Linked DNA regions of Homo sapiens. The protein of the gene in region 1 purifies or fractionates together with the protein of each later gene. This does not show direct contact. Each region holds a gene or a part of one and is shown in the gene's direction. Other genes may lie near its edges.

Evidence for each region.
Region 2: the proteins of ZBTB7C (region 1) and ZBTB5 purify together in Homo sapiens (affinity purification with mass spectrometry; one large-scale study listed by BioGRID and IntAct). This does not show direct contact.
Region 3: the proteins of ZBTB7C (region 1) and KLHL29 purify together in Homo sapiens (affinity purification with mass spectrometry; one large-scale study listed by BioGRID and IntAct). This does not show direct contact.
Region 4: the proteins of ZBTB7C (region 1) and PIP5K1A purify together in Homo sapiens (affinity purification with mass spectrometry; one large-scale study listed by BioGRID and IntAct). This does not show direct contact.

Annotation. Positions count from the first base shown.
Region 1 is NC_000018.10:48,028,384-48,031,883, reverse strand, and holds part of ZBTB7C (zinc finger and BTB domain-containing protein 7C), read left to right. Parts: intron 1-1,972; coding exon 1,973-2,624; 3' UTR 2,625-3,500. UniProt on the Homo sapiens protein: May be a tumor suppressor gene.
Region 2 is NC_000009.12:37,444,951-37,448,450, reverse strand, and holds part of ZBTB5 (zinc finger and BTB domain-containing protein 5), read left to right. Parts: intron 1-3,500. UniProt on the Homo sapiens protein: May be involved in transcriptional regulation.
Region 3 is NC_000002.12:23,643,679-23,647,178, forward strand, and holds part of KLHL29 (kelch-like protein 29), read left to right. Parts: intron 1-1,375; exon of another isoform or gene 1,376-1,404; coding exon of another isoform or gene 1,405-1,426; intron 1,427-3,500.
Region 4 is NC_000001.11:151,233,052-151,236,551, forward strand, and holds part of PIP5K1A (phosphatidylinositol 4-phosphate 5-kinase type-1 alpha), read left to right. Parts: intron 1-1,145; coding exon 1,146-1,445; intron 1,446-3,500. UniProt on the Homo sapiens protein: Catalyzes the phosphorylation of phosphatidylinositol 4-phosphate (PtdIns(4)P/PI4P) to form phosphatidylinositol 4,5-bisphosphate (PtdIns(4,5)P2/PIP2), a lipid second messenger that regulates several cellular processes such as signal transduction, vesicle trafficking, actin cytoskeleton dynamics, cell adhesion, and cell motility.

The DNA of each region.
Region 1 (3,500 bases):
CATTTTCACAGTCACAGTGCTGTGGTGAGAAAAGAGGCCTTGACTCCCGGGCCTGCCATGACCCTCTGGGTGAGTTTGGCAAGTTCCCCAGCTGGGTCTGTTTGCCCACCTACATAGTGGAGGCTTTGCCTAGACCGGTGGTTCTCAGTGTGGGGTCCACGGACCACCACCACCACCAGCATGTGGCAACTGGTTAGAAATGCAAATCCTTTGTCCCTCTCCCCTATCCCAGACCTACTGATCAGACTCTCTGGGAGTAGGGCCCAGCACTGTTTTATTGAGTCCTGATTATGGTTCGAATGCATCCTTAAGTTTGAGACCCACTGGCCTAAATGGTCTCTGAAGTCCCTTCCTCCTCAAAAATCCAATCATCTAGGTGAAATCTGGGTTACAGAGACCACAGCATGCTGGTAGGGGGTGGGATATCACAGCAGAGTACTATGTAGCCTAGGGGTGGCTGGTGGGTTTGAAAAAAGGCAGGAGCAGTGGGATGTGGAGGGGAAGAGGGTGACCCCACTTCCCTTCTCCTCACTCCCAGGGGCTCTCCAGCCTTCCTGTGAGCACAGGTGGGAGGACTGGATCTGTCCTCTCTGATCCTCCTCTCACAGTGCCTGCCAGTATTCATGGGAATGTCCTTTTCTCTCCTGCTCTGCCCCTGGAGAACCATTTTGAAAATGAGAGCTGGTGAGACCTCTAGTGGCCAGGAGACACCAGGAGCCTAGGACCTGCACCTGCTGTCCTAGGATTACGTTAAACAGGGTTTAAATCTGGCCATCTTAGGGAGGACACCTGGACTCCACATCTGTTCTAACCTCAAAGCAGAGCCTGAAATTATAGGCAGATGCTCCACCCAAGCCACACCTGCAGGGAGGAAGTAGGAGACTAGACACAGAGCTTCCTGGCCCCTATGGCCCCACTGGGGAAGGCTGCGAATTATCCCAAGAGGAATTCTTGCAGCCCAGCTGCCTATACCTCAGCCACCTTAAGCTGGTTTACCCAATGCTCAGTGTTTATGAAAACAACCCCCTGATATCAGTTTTCCTGTCAAGACCACCAGGAGGTGTGTGGAATCTAGCTCACACAGACCCAGGTTCTTTCCATGAGCCCTGGACAATGAGAATTGATGTCTGGCACCAGGTTCAGCTCTGGGCAGTGAGGTTAAGTAACTTGCCTGAAGTCACCAGCAAGTTGGTGGTGGGTCTGCAGCTGGCGCAGAGGCTCCCAGACCCCCAATAGGTGCAGGCGCCCCCACCCTACACCATACCTTACCTGTGAATAATACCACTTAAACCCTGCAAAGTTTTGCCCTAGATTAGGCTGCATTCTTTTCGCACCTGGCTCTTTTGTAAACCCTGAAATTGTCTACAGACAAAGAGGAGAGCCCAAGGCTTAGGATAAGAAACCACCATGCAGGAGGTTTGAACAAGGTGTGCCCAAGCTTCTATAGCCTCCCAGATTAGTGCCAAACACAGACAGATCTCAATAGCCCGGGGGCTGGGATGGGACCAGGGACTTTGGGCCAAAGCATATAGATGAACTGGAGGGAAAGCATAAGGTTGCCTGGAGAGAGTGGGTATGAGATTAAAGTGCAGTCCAGTATCAGCAGAAGTCGCTGCACTATCCGAGGACTAAGGTCAGAAATGCTGACTTCTGGCGAAGTATCTTCCCAGTATGTGAGATAAACCCCTAATAGAGTGGGAGTTTCATGACTCTGAGCTCGGGTATAAAAGGAGTTTGGGGGAGTGGGGCTTTCAGGACACTGCTTTTTCCGCATCCCTTTAATCCAGGTGAGTAACCATACCTGTCTAAGGTGGGGCAGCAGTTGAGGGTAGATCTAGCATGAGACCTATTTCTGGGGTTTGACTCCATGGCAGTAGGGAGCCTCGGCTGGTTCTGGAGAAAGGGGGAGCAAAAGGTTAGGAATGGCTCCTGGTGTTCCCTGCGGGACTGACCCCCAGTCTCTGCATTGCAGGCAGGACAAGCTGAAAATCCACATGCGGAAGCACACAGGGGAGCGGCCCTACCTGTGCATCCACTGCAACGCCAAGTTCGTGCACAACTACGACCTCAAGAACCACATGCGCATCCACACGGGCGTGCGGCCCTACCAGTGCGAGTTCTGCTACAAGAGCTTCACGCGCTCTGACCACCTGCACCGCCACATCAAGCGCCAGAGCTGCCGCATGGCACGGCCCCGACGCGGCCGCAAGCCTGCTGCGTGGAGGGCCGCCAGCCTGCTCTTCGGGCCCGGCGGCCCGGCCCCCGACAAGGCGGCCTTCGTGATGCCCCCTGCGCTGGGCGAGGTGGGCGGCCACCTGGGCGGCGCAGCTGTGTGCCTCCCGGGCCCCAGCCCCGCCAAGCACTTCCTGGCAGCGCCCAAGGGCGCCCTGAGCCTGCAAGAGCTGGAGCGGCAGTTCGAGGAGACACAGATGAAGCTGTTCGGGCGCGCGCAGCTGGAGGCTGAGAGGAACGCGGGGGGCCTCCTGGCCTTCGCGCTGGCCGAGAACGTGGCGGCGGCGCGGCCCTACTTCCCGCTGCCCGACCCTTGGGCCGCCGGCCTGGCCGGCCTCCCTGGGCTCGCCGGCCTCAACCACGTGGCCTCCATGTCCGAAGCCAACAACTAGGCTGGTCCCTGTCGGCTCCAGCCCACCAGCCCTCCAGTCCTTCTCCCTCCAGGCCCACTCTACCCTACCCCATGGATCTGAACTTTTCATTTTAAAAACACAAAGGGAAAATGGGAAAATAATAATAATACTATCAGTGATGGCATTTTCCCGGGCTCCTAAAGCAGCTGCCTCCTTTTGCTGGTCTGAGACGGGCATCTTTTCCCAAAAGGCCAGGAGCCCGGGCCTCCCTCCCTGTCTCTCTGGCTCTCATATAGAAACTTGCACCGGCCCATGCCACAAAGAACTGGGTGCCCAGGGGCACTTAGGAGCTGGGTGAGTCATGAGGGGTCAGGGGGTGGTTGGCCTGGTGCCCAGCCAGCCACAGCAGGAGGAGGTAGGGGCTGGGCATGCACCTTGGTTAAGCCCCACCCCCTATGGCAAAGTCTCTGCCAACACTCCTCTGAGGGCTCATTTTCCAGTCTCCAGTGGCCCCGGGGTCTTTTTGAGAACTACCCACCTGCCACATAGAAAGAAATGCTCTGTTGGCAGGGAGGCCTCCTGGAACCAGTCAGGAACCAGGCTCTGGAAGGCCCGGGCCATTTCTTCCCTGACCTGTCCTGTGACCTTGACAGGTCAGCCCTCTGTAGCTCAGTGTCACCTGGCTATGGAAGGGGCTGGTAACTGAGGTTTCCGCCCTCCACCTCTAAACACATACACACCTATCCCCCCAGAGAATCACAGAGATGGTAGAAGCTTTGTACTCCCCAAGTCCATGGGGAAACAGTTTATCTTTCTGGACTTAGTTTTATCACATCCAGCTCTATATTAGCATATTAGCATAGGTGAGAAATATGGCCAGACTAGACAGAGATCAGGTCATCAGGGGAGCTTCCG
Region 2 (3,500 bases), on another chromosome or scaffold:
TGTCATTTGCAGCTCCCCAGAATCTTCTGAGCACCCCTTCCCCCCTTCACATTTGGATAGTCTGCAAATTGTGATTCCCACTTTCCCAAGGTGGAATCATAGTTATGATGCAGACATTAGCCTCTGTATTGCCTGAAGATGGTCTGCCAACAAGGTATAACAGGAAGTTCCAAGCATCCCTAAAGTGTTTTGAGAGGAATGTGGAGAACTTGAGTTGGTCTCAAGGCCTGTGATGGGGGATCTAGTGTAGAGCTGAGGATCTCTAGGCTGATGGGAAGTTAAAAGATTGTAGGTACTGTTTGCCTGTCTTCCAGTATTACTTAAACCTTTTATCTTTGTTGGGGTTGTGTTTAGCTACCTCAGTAGCCTCTTTTCAAAGATCCCCTGGCTCTTGGAAAATTTCCTCAAAATGGTGTTTCTGGGACCACAATTTAAAAAAATTGTTTATTTATTTATTTTAGAGATGAGGGCTTGCCATATTGCCTAGGCTGTTCTCCAACTCCTAGGCTCAGGTAATCTTCCCATCTTGGCCTTCCAAAGTACTGGGAATTACAGATATGAGCCACCATGCCCAGCCCCGTAATTTTTAAGTAAGCCATTTTTCTCATATAAGTTCTTTTGCTTATCTAAAAAAAAAAAAAAAGAAGCATTGAGCAGAATATTAGTGCCCTTTTAAATCAGTATGCCTAGTTGAAATACTATTTATTTGTGAAGTCAGTCTTTTATGGCCCCCCTCACCTATTAACTCAGGAAAATAATTCCCACCTGCCACTGTTGTTTTGAAGATTAGAAATAATGTAAATTAAAAGTACTTAGCATAATGACTGTCAGGCTCTCAGTAATTACTGTTATTATACCTGTAATCCCAGGCTGGCAGGAGGATTGCTTGAAGCCAGGAGTTCAAAGCTGCAGTGAGCTATGATCATGCCACTGTACTCTAGCCTGGGCAACAGGGTGAAACCCTGTCTCAAAAAAAAAGCACAGTAAAAAATATATATTTTATTACCACTACCATTACCTCTGTTACTGTCACCAGTGAGACTGTTACTACAATGCTGGGTGATATGGCTTGGCTCTGTCCCAACCCAAATCTCATCTCAAATTGAATCCCCACATGAAGGGAAGGAGGTGATTGGATCCTGGGGGTGGTTTCCCCCATGCTGTTCTCCTGATAGTGAGTTCTCACAACATCTGGTGGTTTTATAAGTGACAGTTTCTCCTTCACACACTCACACTCTTCTGCCACCATGTGAAGAAGGTCCTTGCTTTCCCTTTGCCTTCCACCATGATTGTAAGTTTCCTGAGGCCACCTTAGCCATGCAGAACTGTGAGTCAATTAAACCTCTTTCCTTTATAAATCACCCAGTCTTGGGTATTTCTTTATAGCAGTTGAAAACAGACTAATACACTGGGTCTATTCCCCACTGTAGGAGAGAAAGCAGTAACGCTGAGTGTCTAGTGTTCCTTGTTTTTGCCTGTTGAGCCCAAGCTTCCATGGTCGCTTAGAAGAGCAACTCTGAGTCTTGTACAACTTCCCACCACAATTCCCTGTTTATTTTATTCCTCAAACCAGAATGTTTCTTCCCTGTTACTGCTACAAAATAATTACCCCTCTGGAACTTGGCACTTATTCATATATGAGTGTACTTTCTAAGGCAGGGCTATAGACTTAATGAGCAGTAATTGCATTTTGTTTAATCTCCCCAAAGCCTTAAGCTCTGTGGGCCCTGAGTGAGTCGGGTGGGGACCCGGGATGTGTGTGCTGCTGCCTGCCACTGCTGGCTCTCTGCTTTCTGCCGGAAAGCTTGGTAAAGCAAGAAGGGATGTGGCAGTGGCTGCATCTTTGGAGATCTGATCTCTCATACATGATAGCAAAGAACAGACACCTCAGTGGGAAAGTATGTGTGATCTATTTTGTTGTTGAAAGTTCATCAAAGCTCAACAAACATAGGCAAAACAATATGGCCAACATGTGTCTGCTGCTTTGAGGCATTTGCTTTTCCGATAGTTAACTTTCCAAGTATAGCTGAATAGCATAATAGTCTCAGTCGCCACAGTAGACCCTTGAATTTTGTGGACTTAGTTTGCCATTTCAGTTATTTCCCAGGATCCTGACCAACTTTGGCCTGTAAGGCTGTATGGCTGGGACATCAGAGCAAGTGGTTGGGCCTGGGGAGCCACTTGGCACCCATGCTGCCTTCTTATGAAATGCCATGATGGTATTTGTGAATTTTGGAGATTTGCAAAGATCTCAGGTATATCCCTTTAGAATATCATAGATCTACCTTTTTTAAATTTAATTTTATAAATATATGTGTATACATTTTTATGTATTTATTTATTTGAGACAGAGACTTGCTCTGTCGCCCAGGTTGCAGTGCAGTGCAGCGATCTTTGCTCTCTATAACCTCTGCCCCCTGGGCTGAAGCAGTCTTCCCACCTTAGCCTCCCAAGTACACTGGGACTACATGGCAGGCACTCGCCACCATGGCCGGCTACTTTTTGCATTTTTAGTTGAGATGGGGTTTTGCCATGTTGCCTAAGGTGGTCTCGAACTCCTGAGCTCAAACAATCTGCCCGCCTCAGTCTCCCAAAGGGTTAGGATTACAGCCATGAGCTACCACACCCAGCCTATAGTTCCATAAGGCTTATAGGTAAAAAGAAACAAAAACAACAACAAAACAGCAGTCCCCTGTCCCATCCTTTTCCCCATCAATTACCCACTCCTCAGAGGCAACCACTTTCAATTATTTCAGCTGTTTCTTCCACTATTGACTTCCATATTTCTTTTTTCTTTTTTTTTTTTTGACAGGGTCTCACTCTGTCTCCCAGATTAGAGTGCAGTGACGTGATCTCTGCTCACTGCAAGTTCTGACTCCGGGCTCAAGTGATCCCCCTCAGCCTCCCAAGTAGCTGGGACTGCAGGCACATACCACCATGCCTGGCTAATTGTTTTTGTATTTTTAGTAAGAGATGGGGTTTTGCCCCATGTTGCCCAGGCTGGTCTTGAACTCCTGGGGGCTCAAGGGACCCACCTACCTCGGTCTCCCAAAGCGCTGGGATTACAGGCGTGAACCACCAAGTTGGTTAACTTCTATACTTCTAAATAACATGCCAAATTACTATTTTTTGAGATAACCTATTTCAGACTGTATTTCTAGATTAATAAGGAAAGTGAAGATTTAACTTTATTATACCTCATCTCCTCTACCCTCTTCCCCCATGCAAAGTTGCTTTCTCTCATCCTCCCAATATCTCACATTCGGTTTAGTGTACATATTTTATGACTGTGTAAATATTGTCTACGAATGAACTACATATTGTGTCCTGTGAGTAAACAACCTTTTTTTTTTTTCCTGGAGTTAATCATTGATCCATTTAAAAACTTCTTGTTTTTTTTAATGACCTATCTGCACACTTGGATAGGACTGGTAAATTACAAGCACTCCCAGTCACATCAGGTTATCTATCCATTCCTTTTTTTCCCACCCCCCTTGGAG
Region 3 (3,500 bases), on another chromosome or scaffold:
GCTGGATTCCTCTGCTATAGGTTTGCCTAGCCCTTAGTGCCCCAGACAAGCCAAGTCCCTGCTCCTGCTGGATGCAGTGGGGAAGGCTGCTGGGCCACTGCCAGGTACAGGCAGTGGGGGCATAAGGGTCCATGGCAAACAGTCTGGCCCAACGGGGTGTCTACATCTCTTTTGAAAGAGGACACTAGACGGTCCCAGAAAGTATGCATCTCTGGGCACAACTTCCCAGCCTTCCCACATAAAACCCCTTGAGATGGCATTTCGGGGTGCTCTGCCTTTCGGCAGAGCAAGGAACCCCACTAGCCACTCTCCTGTCTTCTCTCCCAAGTCTCTTCCTTTGTCATTTCAAGCAATTTTCATGCCTTGTCAAGCATCCCAACAATAAAGCTCATGTCTGGATCTCTGTTGGGTTTAATTCCCAATCTGACTGAGCCCTAACTGCCTTTGTTTTGGAAATCAGCACTAGTTTTAAATGACAAAATTGTAGAAAATTACATCTAAATTCTGGTAAACTCTTGCTTTAAGATCTTTTTTAAAAAAATGACTAAATTGATTTTTTCTTTGCATTGTTTTGGTTAAGCTCTGTCTCCCTTTAAAAAAAAAAAAAGAAAGAAAGAAACTTACTCCCAGTTCAAGTTCATGAGTTACCAACTCTGACAACTGGGCAGCGGGCATCCTACTTCCAAGGCTATGCCAAAGCCCAAGGCACCGGGTGGCATATTCTGTCCCCACATAGCCCCTCTGGGCTAATGCAAGATCTTGCTGGCTTGCCACGTTCCAGGCACGCATCTAGGAAAAGGAGCTGTTTTGTGCAAAAAGGTAACTAGCTGAGAAAGGACTGGAGTCCCTAGTCTGGGGCTCAGCACCAAGCTGGGATCTGCCCCACCAAAGCTGCTGGGTGCAGGCAGCTAAACATTGTCAGCCCTGAGCCCATGAGATCAGAAAGACACAGGTGGCGGGGACAGGACCCTGCAGGACTTCTGTGCCCACTGGGTCAATGACCATTGCAGAGCTGTTCCTGTAACCTCTGTGCAAGGACCTGAGGGTGTGAACCATCCTCTGTGGTGGTCCTGAGCCAATGGAAGGGAGGGGACAAGAAATAGGGGCCCTGCTAAGATTCCCTCTACCAGGCCCCACTGGGCAGACCGAGGGCCAGGTGTGAGGGCCAGGGATGGGGTGGGCCTAGAAAGTGTCCTCAGCCCTGCCTTCTGGTGAGCCAGCGGGACCCACCAGCTCTAGCCAGTGACAACAACTGACCGGTCCATCACCCTGATTTCCAGAGGTTGCCAGCACACTGGCTCTTTCCTCGAAATTCCATGTAACTCGCTTCTCTATTTACGGCCTCATCAGCTGATGGAGCCCCTTATATTTGCAGGGAAGAAAGAGTGACGCACGCGCCTACAAATGCCTCCAAACTCAAGCCTGGGTGGGTTTTTTCTTTTTTTAATATATAAGTAATTTCTCTTTTCATTTCTAATCTTAAAAGCCTTTATTGCTGAAGCTATAATTTGTCTGTCAGATCTAATGTCAAACAACTGCATATTTTTTAAAATAAGAAACCCGAATTTTGAAACTAAATCTTTGAAACTTGCCATGTGAGAGTCGTGTTCCTGACAGGACCAGGTGGGCTTGGATCTGGGTCACTTTTAATTTTGCCCCTAGGGATTTTACATCTCTGAAGCCCAATTGATTTCACACTCCTAAATGACAGACAGCTGGCTCCAGGCAGGAACAGGAGGCTCTGCGTGATGGCGTCAACACAAGTCAGAACTCCACTTTAGAAAAAAAAAAGAACTTTCCTTTTCTCCTGTTCTCTGTTTGAAACCTTGCCCAGCATTATAATAAGATCCACCATGCAATGCCTTGAGATCTAGCTCGTTAAAGTCCCCGATATTCCCTGCTATTGTTTGACGTGACAACCTGGCCTCTCCCGGGGTTGAGTAATTATGGGGAGATTCCCCTCCATGAAGAACAGGTCTTGCCAGCCAGAGGGATGGGCCACTGGTATTTTTAGACTTCATTAGTGCCCAGATTTAAAATTTCACATTTTGTTTCTTGTAATTATCTTCTGATCGACTGAGCTCAAATTTCAGTTGGGGCCCTATTAGTCTGCCTTTCCAAAAAGGGCGTTGGGACTTTAATTTAAAACTTAACCAGTTGAAAAATAAAGGTGGCGTGGAAATGCTTTTTGATTTGCAGTAGGTCAAGCGATTGTCTCTCATCTGTGACTAGAGAAGCCAGCTTGTGTGCCATTCACTTTAATGAGTGTTATTTAAATGCATTGAGCACATATAGATTTTCTTAAGAAACTTACAAGACAAATCTTTCTTTCTCTAAGAACAATTTGGGGGTGGGAGCAAGCTGTAGGATTTTTTTTTTAGATGATGTATTGAAAGCTAATTAAAAATAGATTTCATGTGTGCAAAGTGATAAGGGAGGAAAAAAGAATTCGTTCCATTTGAATCCTGTTATGAAGTACCTAAGACATTTGTCTCGTTGTTGGATTGGAACCACCGAGCTAACACATGGGGAGAGGTGTGGCCAAGCTCAGGCCTCGGTGAGACCTGGAGTCAGTGTTACTACCCCAGGATCCCGTGAACCCAGCTGTGCGTGCCTGATGACAGAGCACAGGCTATGAATGCAGCTATTTCTACCCCTGCCTTCTTTGGCAAACAGTTTTTGGTGGCTCAGAGGATGTATGGGGACCTTTTAAAGCCCCAAGCTCCAGGCCTAGTGGTGAGCTGCAGAAAGGCTATTGTGTCTTCACCTGCGTGGCTGGGAGTGAAGAGTCAGGCTGCACCTGCTCCCACCTGCTTCTAGACCAGAAAGCAAAGCCCGTGTCAACCTGAGCAGGGAAAGGTATCTCTTCGGACTTCATATTTTGCAGGGGCCTAGGGTGAGGGGTCATGAGGATCCATCTACAGGCTTGTCCTCCCTTCTGGGAGGCCGTACTGGGAGAGAGGGATGGTTCAGCCCCTTCCTTTGGTTCTCCAGCTCCTCCCTTCCTATTCTGGCACTGGACTTCCACCTCATGGCACACCATTCATCCTCGCTGCTGCATTCATCCCTGTCTTCACAAGTAACAGTGATGAGATCTTGTGAAAATACTTTGAGGCACAGGGAATAGCTGTGTGACTGGGACAAGCCTCCTCACTTCTCTAAGCCTCTTTCCTCATCTTTAAAGTGGGGGTGACAGTACCACCCTCACAGGGCCTCAGGGAGGATTGAGTGAGATTGCGGACATGTCCGTACATAGCACTGTGCCTGCTTACCCCAAAAGCAGCTCTGGCTATTGCCTCTGGTCCAGGGTCTAGAGAGTTCAGCAGAGAAGGAGGCTAGGGAAGGGGCAGAAGGCCAGGCCCTCCCCAGCGCAGAGGAGATGGAAGAAGCCCATGCTTGTCCACAGGGCTGGCAATCCCTGGTCAAGCCATTTAACTTAGGGATGGGGACCCCTTCCCTAAAAGGGAGGTGGGATGCATCCCTTTTCTGTCAGGAGGACT
Region 4 (3,500 bases), on another chromosome or scaffold:
ATCCTGCCACTGCACTCCAGCCTGGGTAACAGAGCAAGACTCCGTCTCAAAAAAAAAAAAAAAAAAATGTTGTTCAGTTTTGTGCTTTTCACCCCATTTCTTTTGCCTCTCTATGGTAAAAGGGGTTTTGTTTATCTGTTCTGTTTTAAGTGTTGTTGATCTCCCAGGCTCAAGTGATCCTCCCACCTCAGCCTCTCACGTAGTTGGGACTAAAGGCACGCACCACCACACCTGGCTAATTTTTATAAACTTATTTTCTTTTATTTTTTCGTGACGGAGTCTCGCTTTGTTGTCCAAGCTGGAGTACAGTTGCACAATCTCGGCTCACTGCAACCTCCGCCTCCCAGGTTCAAGCAATTCTCCTGCCTCAGCCTCCTGAGTAGCTGGGATTACAGGCATGCGCCACCATGCCAAGCTAATTTTTTATTTTTTAGTAGAGATGGAGTTTCACCATGTTGGTCAGGCTGGTCTTGAACTCCTGACCTCATGATCCGCCTGCCTTGGCCTCCCAAAGTGCTGGGATTACAGGCGTGAGCCACCGTGCCCGGCCTAATTTTTATAAATTTTTAGTAGAGATGAGGTCTTGCTATGTTACCCAGGCTGGTCTCAAATTCCTGAGCTCAAGTGATCCTCCTGTTTGGCCTCCCAAAGTGCTGGGGTTACAGGCATGAGCCACTGCACCTGGCTATTTTCGTCTTCTGTTCTTAGTTCAGCTTCTAGTTTGGGGAATGAGGTAGGTTATTTCCCTTGGTAATACTCTCTGCAGCCTTACTCTGATTGCTATTGGAGGTTCTGGAGAAGTTAGGTAACTCTCCTTACCTGCCTTACCATCCCCAAGAATATACTATACCCAGGGCAGAGAGTGTCGTCTTCTCTTAAATCTCTCTGAAGAAATATATCCATCTTATATTGGTATCCTGGCTGATTTCTGTATTGGAGAGTCTGTGGCACAGCTTGATGGTGAACTTACCATTGAAATAGATGCATAGGGAAATGTAAAGCATATATGATGTAGGTTTATGGACACATTGTGTCTAAATCTCATATAGGAGATAAAGGGAGGATGGGTGGTAACTTTTACTGGTGAGTTTCACTGAAAATCAGCTAAGTTGTTCTCCTACTTCTGTTTCCTTTTGTGTTCTCAGAACCTCAACCAGAACCCTCGGACTTTGCTGCCTAAATTCTATGGACTGTACTGTGTGCAGGCAGGTGGCAAGAACATTCGGATTGTGGTGATGAACAATCTTTTACCAAGATCGGTAAAAATGCATATCAAATATGACCTCAAAGGCTCAACCTACAAACGGCGGGCTTCCCAGAAAGAGCGAGAGAAGCCTCTTCCCACATTTAAAGACCTAGACTTCTTACAAGACATCCCTGATGGTCTTTTTTTGGATGCTGACATGTACAACGCTCTCTGTAAGACCCTGCAGCGTGACTGTTTGGTGAGTTTGTTACTTAGACATCAAAAATCTCAGTTACTAAAACAGCTTGATTGTTCTTAGGCATTAAGTTTGTGGGAGATGGAACTCTGTTCCTTAGCACTGTATGTCCTGGGCTGTATTTAAAATAAGTCTTAATTAGTTCATTGCCATTCCTTTACATTTTTACTTTCTCCCCGTTTATCCTCCCACAATGGGATTTATTTCCTTCTCTAGCTAGCCTGGGCCTCACAGTCAAATGTTCTGCTTATTTTCATACCAACATCATCCTTCCTCAGATTTTGGTCCTGGCTGCCAAATCCAAATTTATATTTTGGAAGCTGAGTGCTGCTGAAGAATATTACACAACCGTGTATACTGGCATCTACAGAATTATGATATCCAACCCCACTTGGGCTTTCAATATCGATCTTCAGTCCATTTGCTGTTGCTCTCAATAGGGATTTCAGATGTTTGGCATTCTAATCAAACCATTTTCTGACTCTCATCTCCCTAGCTTTGTTTCTCAACAAGCTACCTTAACTTTTTATCCTATTTCATCCTCTCATGCTGCCCCTGTCACCAATGGATAAATGTATCTACATTTTACTTTATTTTTTATTTTTTGAGATGGAGTTTCACTCTTGTCACCCAGGCTGGAGTGCAATGGCACGATCTCGGCTCACTGCAATTTCCACCTCCCAGATTCAAGCGATTCTCCTGCCTCAGCCTCCCAAGTAGCTGGGATTACAGGCGCCCATCACCACGCCTGGGTCGTTTTTGTATTTTTAGTAGTGACAGGGTTTCACCACGTTGGTCCCGCTGGTTTCAAACTCCTGACCTCAAATGATCTGCCTGCCTTGGCCTCCCAAAGTGCTAGGATTACAGGTGTGAGCCACCGCACCCGGCCTAGATATCACTCTTGACCTCTGTACTCTTCTGTCATGTGAACACTTCCCACTGTTGCACATATTAAACTGTATTGTGTTTATTTTACATTTGTATCCCTTTCTAAATGTATAATGTCCTTGAAGACAGAAACTCTCTCTTTAATATCTTTATATCTCTGTAAGGAGGCACAGTGCCTACATGGTGGAGATTCAGTAAATGTTTAACTGAATTGAAGCTAGTCATACAAGGTCCTACCACAGATCTGTTCTGTCACAAAGTGTACTTTACCAGAACCTCATTGTGGAATCTTCACAGCACAAATATGTATTCCTTGTTCTTTTGAGAAGGTAGTGTTCTCTTCATGGAGACATACATGGAAAGAACAAAGATGGTCTTGTGGGCTAGGCAGTGGGACTTGGAAAAATTATATTAACTCAAATGAGAGAAAGCTAAGGGTATGTAAATAAAGACTAACCAGGCCGGGCGTGGTGGCTCACGCCTGTAATCCCAGCACTTTGGGAGGCTGAGGCAGGCAGATCACCAGGTCAGGCGTTCGAGACCAGCCTGGCCAACATGGTGAAACCCCAACTCTACTAAAAATACAAAAATTAGCTGGGTGTGGTGGCACGTGCCTGTAATCCCAGCTACTTGGGAGGCTGAGGCAGGAAAATCGCTTGAACCAGGGAGTTGGAGGTTGCAGTGAGCCAAGATCGCGCCACTGTACTCCAGCCTGGCGACAAAGCAAGACTCCGTCTCAAAAAAAAAAAAAAAAAAATTTAGCCTTACAGGTTCACTGTAAGGCTAAATTAAATAATTACATCATGAAAGCTGTCAAGCCAGGCGTGGTGGCTCATACCAATAGTCCCAGCACTTTGGAAGACTGAGATAGGCAGATCCCTTGAGCCCAGAAATTAGAGACCAGCTGGGCAGCATGGTGAAACCGTCTCTATGAAAAATAAAAAATTAGGCAGGTGTAGTGGTGTGTGCCTGTAGTCCCAGCTACTTGGGAGGCTGAAGTAGGTGGATATTTTGAGCCTGGGAGGTTGCAGCTACAGTGAGCCGAGATCACACCACTGCACTCTAGCCTGGGTTACAGATTGATACCCTTTCTCAAAAAAACAAAAAAATTGTGAGATCCTGAAAAATATTTTTATTTCTTCCAAGGCTCAGATCATGTTTTTTTCCTTC